Linked DNA regions of Homo sapiens. The protein of the gene in region 1 purifies or fractionates together with the protein of each later gene. This does not show direct contact. Each region holds a gene or a part of one and is shown on either strand. Other genes may lie near its edges. The genes, in order: CHRM5, TRIM26 and KIAA0232.

The links.
Region 2: the proteins of CHRM5 (region 1) and TRIM26 purify together in Homo sapiens (affinity purification with mass spectrometry; one large-scale study listed by BioGRID and IntAct). This does not show direct contact.
Region 3: the proteins of CHRM5 (region 1) and KIAA0232 purify together in Homo sapiens (affinity purification with mass spectrometry; one large-scale study listed by BioGRID and IntAct). This does not show direct contact.

Annotation. Positions count from the first base shown.
Region 1 is NC_000015.10:34,065,145-34,068,034, reverse strand, and holds the end of CHRM5 (muscarinic acetylcholine receptor M5), read right to left. Parts: 3' UTR 2,064-2,890; coding exon of another isoform or gene 2,022-2,063; 3' UTR 577-2,021; downstream 1-576. UniProt on the Homo sapiens protein: The muscarinic acetylcholine receptor mediates various cellular responses, including inhibition of adenylate cyclase, breakdown of phosphoinositides and modulation of potassium channels through the action of G proteins.
Region 2 is NC_000006.12:30,186,604-30,189,488, reverse strand, and holds part of TRIM26 (tripartite motif-containing protein 26), read left to right. Parts: coding exon 1-71; intron 72-289; coding exon 290-322; intron 323-2,885.
Region 3 is NC_000004.12:6,785,727-6,789,385, forward strand, and holds part of KIAA0232 (uncharacterized protein KIAA0232), read left to right. Parts: intron 1-3,659.

The DNA.
Region 1 (2,890 bases):
AACTTTTCTGTAAATTTTAAATGATTTCAAAAAAGTTTTGTTTTGTTTTTAATTGCTTCCAGCTTCTTCTTTGACAATTAAACTTTTTTCCCTTCTTCCGCTCACTCTCGATCTGGGGTCTTTATTGGGCAAGAGTTTACATAATCTTGAACTTTACCAGTAAAATGATGTGGGGAAGATGGAAATTAGTATCACTTACAATGGGAATGGAGTGGGGCACCGACTCTTTAAATAGTTGACAAGGAAATGCTGCTGCCCCTTTTTGTGCAGTCTCCACTCGGTAAAGGACTGTGGTTTCAGGTCTGCCCCACCTCCCTTGTCCCATAGGGAAGGGAAAGCGTTTTACTCACAGATCTCTTGTCATCATTATTTAATCTTAGTTTGGTCATTGGTAACTTAGAGGGAAGGAGGAATCACAAAAGGTAGCAAGAAGGACGTGTATCCATACTGTGTATCAATCCCAACTTTCTTGAAAGGCCAGGCCATGCAAAGGTGTGTGGGAAACCCAATATAGATGGATCTAATAGGCTACTCTGAAACAATTTTCTTATTTAAATGCTCTGCATTGGACCACTGTGCGGTTAAATTTCTTTAATATCTAGAATAGTGCTTATACAATACAGAAAAGCAGCCCAGTCCCCATATCCTTTGCTGTAATTCCAGTATTTACAGTAGACAACTGGAGATTCTAATCCAGAGGTTTGGGTACAGATTTCACAATTACAAAGAGCTGGCATCAGTATTGTCTTCAAAGGACATTCACCAAAGGAGCGAAGCAAAAGCTGAGAATATTGACAAAATGCTTTGTTCAACCAAAAATTGAATGGAAAACAGATTCCCTGACAAGTCATCAAATTCACAGCCAAGGGGAAACAAATTACAATGATAGCAAAGTAACAGCATCCAGTAGGTAACTAGCCAAAGTCATACATGGTTTACTATAGACAAAGCCTGGAAGACTGGGGGCATAGAAGGCCTAAGATCTCAAGTCAGGCCATGCGCCTCCCACCCACCCATCAGGTCCCTGTAGTTTACAATTAGGTCTATTCATTCTGAGGACCCCACTAAAGCCGCTATTCTATAGAAGTCTAGTTGTCCCTAGTAGTTTGGGATATTTTTTGTCTATGTCAAGAGGCATAGGTAGTCTGCAAAACTGGCTGCTTTCCAAAACCAATGATAAAAAAAGAAGCATTGACCTCTCTCTCTCTCTTTTTTTTTTTGAGGCAGGGTCTTGCTCTGTCACTTAGACTGGAATGCAGTAGTGTGATCATAGCTCACTGCAACCTCTAACTCCTGGGCTCATGCGATCCTCCTGCTTCAACCTCTGAAGTAGCTGGGTCTACAGGCACACACTACGATGCCCTGCTAATGCCCAGGTATTTAAAATTTTTTTTGTAGAGACAGGGTCTCCCTATGTTGCCAGGCTGGTCTTGAGCCCCTAGGGTCAAGCAGTCCTCTTGCCTCAGCCTCCCAAAGTGCTGGGATTACAGGTGTCAGCCACCACACCCAGCAATACACTTCTTAATCAATTTCACAAAAGATGAACAAAAAAGGCCAAGTCCTAAGCAAGTGCGGAGTGTGCGAGGAGTGCCCTCCATGGCATCCTTTCCCGATTTGTGTTCTTTTGTTTAAATTAGCTTGTTTCACTCTCAACTGCGAATGGTGAATGCCCAACATGGGCTTAAAAGCCTATTCTCATGAAGGGGTTTTCATCTTTATCAGGAATCAAAGCCTTAAACGAAGACTCAACTGTTTATCTGGCGCTGGTAGAGCAGGTTTGCTCATGAAGTCACACCCAGTTGGCATCACGGAGGCCCGAAAGCCTCTGTGCTGGAGAACTGAGCCAATTACTGTTCCCACCGAATTCTTTGCAGGTGTCAACCTGCCCTTTACAAAGGCTCAGCAGATGCACTGCTTACAAGATGTTTCATGTCAACGTGAAGTCTTTATAAGGGACCAGTCCCGTCCTGCCTGAGATTCTACTACCCTGAAGCCTCCGTGGGACATCCTGTGAGAGGCTGATGATGCTCTTCAGTGGTAGGCTGAAGCTCTCCCATACTCAGGTACATATCTAATTCCCAGGACAACTAAACCAGCTAATTTTCCATCCTCTTAGCAAATGAGACTGAAAAGGACCCGGCCTACACTAAGACGCATGAAGTCTGGTGATTTTTAAGTCCAGCTGCAGATGTAACCAACGAGTTAAATAATGTCTGACAGGAGTGCTTCATCTTTAAAATCCTTGCTGTGTACCACACTACTGCTTCTTTGTGGACTTTTGTCCACAAAGGTCCTTTGATTCCGTTTGTTTATACGCACTTAGAGATTTCAATTAAGTGTGGTTTTTAATAATCCTCATGCTGTCATGCATGTCAACTGTTTTATTTTTATGTATTACTATGACCTACACTTTGTTTTTAAAAATGAAGCTTTCAGATCATTTTCAGCTTCATCGCACCCTCAAGTGTGCTTTTCTGGCCTTCTCATTTGTGACCGAATTTGGAGAGGAATAAAGAAGTCATTTTTAGGCCCTGATTTGAAGGACCTATAAAAAAAGACTTTCTACCCCCACCTCACCCCACAACCCCCTGCTTGGAGGCAGCACAGCTGACCTGCTTGCGTCTTGGTGTGAACTGGGGATCTGAACAAGGGAAATTGGAGGCTGCAAAAGGGCTCTGGAAGAAATTCAAAAGCAAATCTGTTTTCCACATTTTGCTCAGGTTTGCCCTGTGAAGAGATTAGAAAGCAAGATCTCTGAAAACAATATAAGAACCTTAATTCAACAGCCTGGAGAAAATCTTCAGCCAGTGAAGGGCTCTTACACAATTAGTCTTCCTAAGAACAGAGCATAAATAAATGGGTTCAAATGGGCACAAAATAGAATGCACAA
Region 2 (2,885 bases), on another chromosome or scaffold:
GGTTAAAAAAAAGACCGGAGAATTCTCAGATAAACTCCTCTCTCTGCAACGAGGCCTGAGGGAATTCCAGGGTAAGGGTTGGGGAGCGCACAAAGGGTGGGAGTCAGAGCAGGGCTACCTCGTAGAAAGAGCGCACCCAGCTCCTTTCCATCACCTTGTCGATCCTCACTCTTCTGAGGGCCTCTTGTCTTAGACATGGATCCCTATCAGGAAATTGATACTGCCCGAGCAAGAAATGGGCTCATAAATTTTCGGGACTTGAGTCATTGCTGTCCTTTTTTCTCCCCAGGGAAGCTGCTGAGAGACTTGGAATATAAGACAGGTGAGTGTCTAGAGGGTGTTTCCCAGATGTACATCAAATATAGAAAACTCCGCCTGCAGAGATTCTGACTGCTCACTTTTCCCCCAGGTAGCCCCTTTTGCAACAGGAAGAATTTCCCAGCTGCACAATAGAAGCCCCCCTCCCTCTTTGCACTTTCTAATCAGCCTACTCTTTAGTCTGCAGTAGAGGCCTCTGCTTGCTAGTCTGATCCTTCTCTGCCCTGTGTTTGCTTTTCTTTTTCCTATCCTCACAGGTCCTACCACCAGTCCTTTTCCTGTGGCCGAGCTTTCTCTCATCTTCCTGGCTGCATGGCTCCTATATTCAGAGCAAACAGCAGGGGCAACCTAAGACCAGAGGCCATATCCACCACAGGCCCCACTATTGTGCCCCCTCTCAGCCCTGCAGTTAGGTTGTACACTGCATACCAACCACCAAGGAGCGCCATCCACATAGACCAAGATGTGAATGGTGCCCCTTGGATTGTGAAGACTGGTGGTCTCCTCCTGGCTCACTTTCACACTTGCTTTCGTGAGAACCATTGAGGAGGTCGGCCTGTCTGGGAGCAAACGAGGCCCTGAGAGCTTCATCTAGTTCACAGGATAAAATCCCATAGCAGAACTGAGTTAGCAGTGGTTAAACCTTAGGTGGTTGTAGCTTCTTTATTAATGTCTGAGCTGTCTGTGAATACCGTCAAATTTTACCTATCAGGTTATTCTAATTATAGAGAATCCTATGAGGATGATGGTGAGGATTATCCCACTCTGTCAGTACCTGTTCAGGGTTTCTTGAACCATCTTACAGAGCAGGCTGGTAGTTTTGAAACTGAAATTGAACAGTTTACAGAGACCCTGAATGCTTGTGTTACAACAGATGATGCTTTGCAAGAACTTGTGGAACTCAGAGGCCACATCTGTCCCAAATTTCTTTTTTTTTTTTTTTTTTTTTTTTTGAGACGGAGTCTCGCTGTCGCCCAGGCTGGAGTGCAGTGGCGCAATCTCGGCTCACTGCAGGCTCCGCCTCCTGGGGTTCACGCCATTCTCCTGCCTCAGCCTCCCGAGTAGCTAGGACTACAGGCGCCCGCCACCTCGCCCGGCTAATTTTTTGTATTTTTAGTAGAGACGGGGTTTCACCGTGTTAGCCAGGATGGTCTCGATCTCCTGACCTCGTGATCCACCCGCCTCGGCCTCCCAAAGTGCTGGGATTACAGGCGTGAGCCACCGCGCCCGGCCTTTTTTTTTTTTTTTTTTTTGAGATGGAGTCTTGCTTTGTCTTCCAGGCTGGAGTGTAGTGGTGTGATCTCAGCTCACTGCGAGCCCCGCCTCCCAGGTTCACGCCATTCTCCTGCCTCAGCCTCCTAAGTAGCTGGGACTACAGGTGCCCACCACCATGCCCGGCTAATTTTTGTATTTTTAGTAGAGATGGGGTTTCACCATGTTAGCCAGGATGGTCTCGATCTCCTGACCTTGTGATCCACCCGCCTCGGCCTTCCAAAGTGCTGGGATTATAGGCGTGAGCCACCGTGCCCAGCCCCAAATTTCTCTTACATGGGAGCTCACCTGTGTAATTACCTGACATCATCTGACAGTTAGCACAGAGAGTAGCACCTTCCGCCAATTTCTACTTCAAAGATGTCGGACTGAATATGACATTAAAGATCAAGCTGCAAAAGGGGATGAAGTTACTCCAAAACAATTTCATGCATTTGTACCCTTTCTGGGAGAGCTTTATCATAACCTGGAGATCAGAGGAACAAATGGACAGGTTACAAGGGCAGATATTCTTCAGGTTGGTCTTCAGGAGTTGCCGAATGCCTGAATGCCCTCTTTTCTAATCCCGTGGATGACAGCTTAATTTGTGCAATAAAATTGCTGAAGTTGACAGGGTCAGTTTTGGAAGATTCTTGGAAGGAAAAGGAAGGACTGATATGGAAGAAATTATTCAGGAAATTGAAAATGTTGTTATAGATGCAAGCTGTGGCAGAGACATGAAACAGATGCTCTTGAAGCTTGTAGAACCCCAGTGCAGTAATTGGGGTAGAGTCCATGCAACTTCATCATACAGAAATACAACAGCCAAAAAAGATCCCAATTACTATGTGAATGAACCAACATTTTATAGTGGTCATTCACATAGTTATTGTGTTTCATAGTGTTCCTTTCACTGCAGCTGATCCGGATTACCAAGAAGCATATCAAGAGTTACTTGAAAAAGAGGACTTTTTTTCTGGATTATGAAGAAAATGGAACAGATTTTTCAGGGACTGGTGATCCACACTTGGATGATATTAATGATGAGTTGGACCCAGAGATCCAGAGATAGAGGAAGCTTATGAAAAGTTTTGTTTGGAATCAGAGCGTAAGCGAAAACAGTCAAGTTAAATTTCAGTATATCATGTTTATAAAGCAGTTTAGTTATGGTGATTTAGCAGAATACAAAGCCAGAAAATGTGTCACACTTATACCAAATTAAGGATGTTGAGTTATATTACTAATGTATGCAACTTTAATTTTGTTTAACGCTATCTGCCAAAATAAATTTTATTCCCTCTGACTTAAAAAACAAA
Region 3 (3,659 bases), on another chromosome or scaffold:
TGGTTTGGAGCTTAGAATTCAGAGATACCAGCATCACAATGCAGGCCCCTTGCAGTCTGGCCCCCAGTCATCTCTGTACTTTATCTTGTCCTCTTTGTCCCCTTTCCACACTGTCCAGCTAAACAAGACTGCTCTTGGTTCTCTGAACATGCCAAGCTATTTCAGACCTTCTTTGCTTATATTCTTTTCTCTTATTGGAATGTCCTGTCTCACTCCCACTCCCTCCAGTTCTTAAAAGTTCATATCAAATATTCTGTTCTCTCTGGAGTCCTTTGGAAGTCCTATTACAATGAATTATTCCTTTCCTCAATCATAGTTCTCTATTTTTCCTTCATTATTGTCTATATCATGTTGTATTATAAATTGGTCATAGTAAACTCTGGCTGTGGTGTCTATCCTATCATTTTGCCCCCAACACCTTGCTCAGGCGTTTAAACATAAGTGCTTAATGTTAAATGTAAGTGTTTAAATGTTTGCTAAATAAAGTCAAAGTCTGTAATCAACCTTAAAGAGTATGTTAATATTATAAAGTATATTTATTTTTATTTTTTCTGACCCTGGCTTAAGTCTGCAAATAAAGTTTGTTTGTTTTTGAGACAGCATCTTGCTTTGTCACCCAGGCTTGGAGTGCGGTGGTGTGATCGTGGCTCACTGTAGCCTCAACCTCCCAGGCTCAAGTGATCCTCCCACCTCAGCCTCCTGAGTAGCTGGGACCACGGGCATGCACCACCATGCTCAGCTAATTAAAACAATTTGTTTTTTTGTAGAAACGGGTCTCCCTGTGTTGCCCAGGCTGATCTCGAACTCCTGGGCTCAAGCAATCCTCCCACCTCAACCTCCCAAAGTGCTGGGATTACAAGCATGAGCCACCGCACAAGACCCAGATGAAGTATTTTTAATAAACATCGGTGCCCACAACAACATTAGAAATGTAGTTTTACTATGTTGAATATAGTTACTATTTAGAATATTTCTTTACAGTTATTTTTGGTCTTTCACATAATCACATAAGTGGTATTTTATACAAAGTAAAAACTGTCATCTTTCCCATTTGTATCTAAACTTGTAGGGTCTAATGAAATAGATGAAGTGCCTGCATTGCTGACTGTGAATCACCGACCCATTTTTTGGGCAGAGGGAACCAGAGCACAAGGTTAAAAATATTCCTTGTATTGGCCGGGCGCGGTGGCTCACGCCTGTAATTCCAGCACCTTGGGAGGCCGAGGCGGGCGGATCATGAGGTCAAGAGAGTGAGACCATCCTGGCCAACATGGTGAAACCCCATCTCTACTAAAAATACAAAAATTATCCGGGCATGGTGGAGCACGCCTATAGTCCCAGCTACTTGGGAGGCTGAGGCAGTAGAATCTCTTGAACCCGGGAGGTGGAGGTTGCAGTGAACCAAGATCACACCACTGGACTCCAGCCTGGCGACAGAGCAAGGCTCTCTCAAAAAAAAAAAAAAAAAAAAAAAATCCTTATATTTGAAGTATAATTTAATTCCCAAGAGATTACATGCTTTTTCTTTAAAAGTTTTCTTTTTTAGAAATTTATTATATGCATCAAAAGCAATTGCGTTTGAGGGGGCTTCTTAAAAGAATATTAGAACTGGATTTGAAAGACTCAGGTTTGCTTCTTGGCCGTGAACAAGTTTGTTAAATCCCTTTGGAAGTCAGTCAGTCTTTATTTGGGAACTGAGAACGGTTATTCCTGTTGCTTTGTAGTACATTTAAAGAGGCTATGCTTTGTGTACTGCACATCCTTACACAGATACAAGGTAATCAGATGTTTTGCTTTATAGCATTTTTGTCCTACTTGTTACCCAGCCTGGAAACCTTTAGAGACTTCCTTTCTTGACCAGATTTTTACCAGGTTTGCCTCCATGAGTCTTTTCCATCAGTCTTTTTCTTTACTCTTTCATGTTTCCTCTGCCCCTACCCTCCCTGAAGCTCTTACTCCTTATGAAGATAGTTACTGTAGTCCTCCAACTGGCCTCTCTTTTTTCTGGTCTCTCCTCCTCTGTTCTGTTGCCAGAATTATTTAATAGGCAAATCAAATCATATCATGACCCATTTCCCAAGTATACACCAGAGGTTCTCAACATTTCCCTCTATTCCATCACACCTGAGGGATACGACAGTTTTGTTGGTAAGGTTATGGGCTTTCTCCTCCCAAGATTTTTACCTTGGAAGTGCTACCACACTCCTCCCCTGGTTGAGAATTAATGTTAAAGAGTTAGGAAATCACTGTAAGATCTTTGCTATCTAGCCTCATTCTTACTTTTAGCTTAATCTTTTATTGGATCTCTTCTTTTTCGTTTTTGTGTTTTTGAGACAGGGTCTTACTCTGTCACTCATGCTGGAGTGCAGCGGTGCCATCTTGGCTCACTGCAACTTCCACCTCCCTTCCTCCTGCTGCCTTGGCCTCCTGAGTAGCTGGGACTACAGGCACATAACGCCTGGCTAATTTTTTGTAGAGATGGGGTTTTGCTCTGTTGCCTAGACTGGCTTCAAACTCCTGGGCTCAAGTAATCTGCCCGCCTTGGCCTCCGAAAGTGCCGAGATTATAAGCACGAGCCACCACGCCCAGCCTGCATCTCTTCTTGTCACCTTATATTTCAACACAAGACCTCTGGCCACTTCCGTTATTGGCAGACTACTCTGAAATATCCTTTCCACCTTTCTCTCTCTTTCTGAGTCTTGGAGTCTTGGCTTAAATGCTGCTACTTCTATTTCTGTAACCTGATTTTCAGAATTAACTCATTATTTTTCTCCCACACAGTGCTAGCCTGATACCTCTACTTATCTATTTTTTCCTTATGACTTTTTAGTTTATATACATGAAGGTCTTTCCTGGATTATAAACTCCTTGAGAGATGTAGAGGAAAATCTTAATCATTTCTGATTTCCTCTAGTGTGCAATATAGTCTTTTACATAGTACTCATTTGTTAAATGTTTGACTGAATTAACTCAAAATTTACAGTCTCTGATTTCAGGAGGAGGAGGATAGAGTTGGAATAACTTTGTATGAGAACTTAGTGAATCCACGTGACACACTCAGAACAGGGCCCAGCATATAGTAAGTGCTCAGTAAGTGGCAGCTTTTAGCTATTAATTTGAATAGGTGGAGACGACACTAGTGGTTGGATACACTGGTTAATTGTATATGCTAGTTTATTATGACAGTGTTCACATATTTATTTCTGGTGTGTGTGTAAAGAAAAAAATCTCATTTTCTTTCTTTTTTTTTTATTTTTATTTTGAGACAGAATCTCGCTCTGTCGCCCAGGCTCGAGTGCAGTGGCGCGATCTCGGCTCACTGCCAACTCCACCTCCTGGGTTCACGCCATTCTCCTGCCTCAGCTTCCCGAGTAGCTGGGACTACAGGCGCCCGACCACAACGCCCGGCTAATTTTTTGTATTTTTAGTAGAGACTGGGTTTCACCGTGTTAGCCAGGATGGTTTTTATCTCCTGACCTCGTGGTCTGCCCGCTTTGGCCTCCCAAAGTGCTGGGATTACAGGACTGAGCCACCATGCCCGGCCTTTTCTTTTTTTTTTTTTCCCGAGACTGAGTTTTACTCTGTCACCCAGGTTGGAGTATAGTGGCGTGATCTTGGCTTACTGCAACCTCTGTCTCGTGGGTTCAAGTGATTCTCCT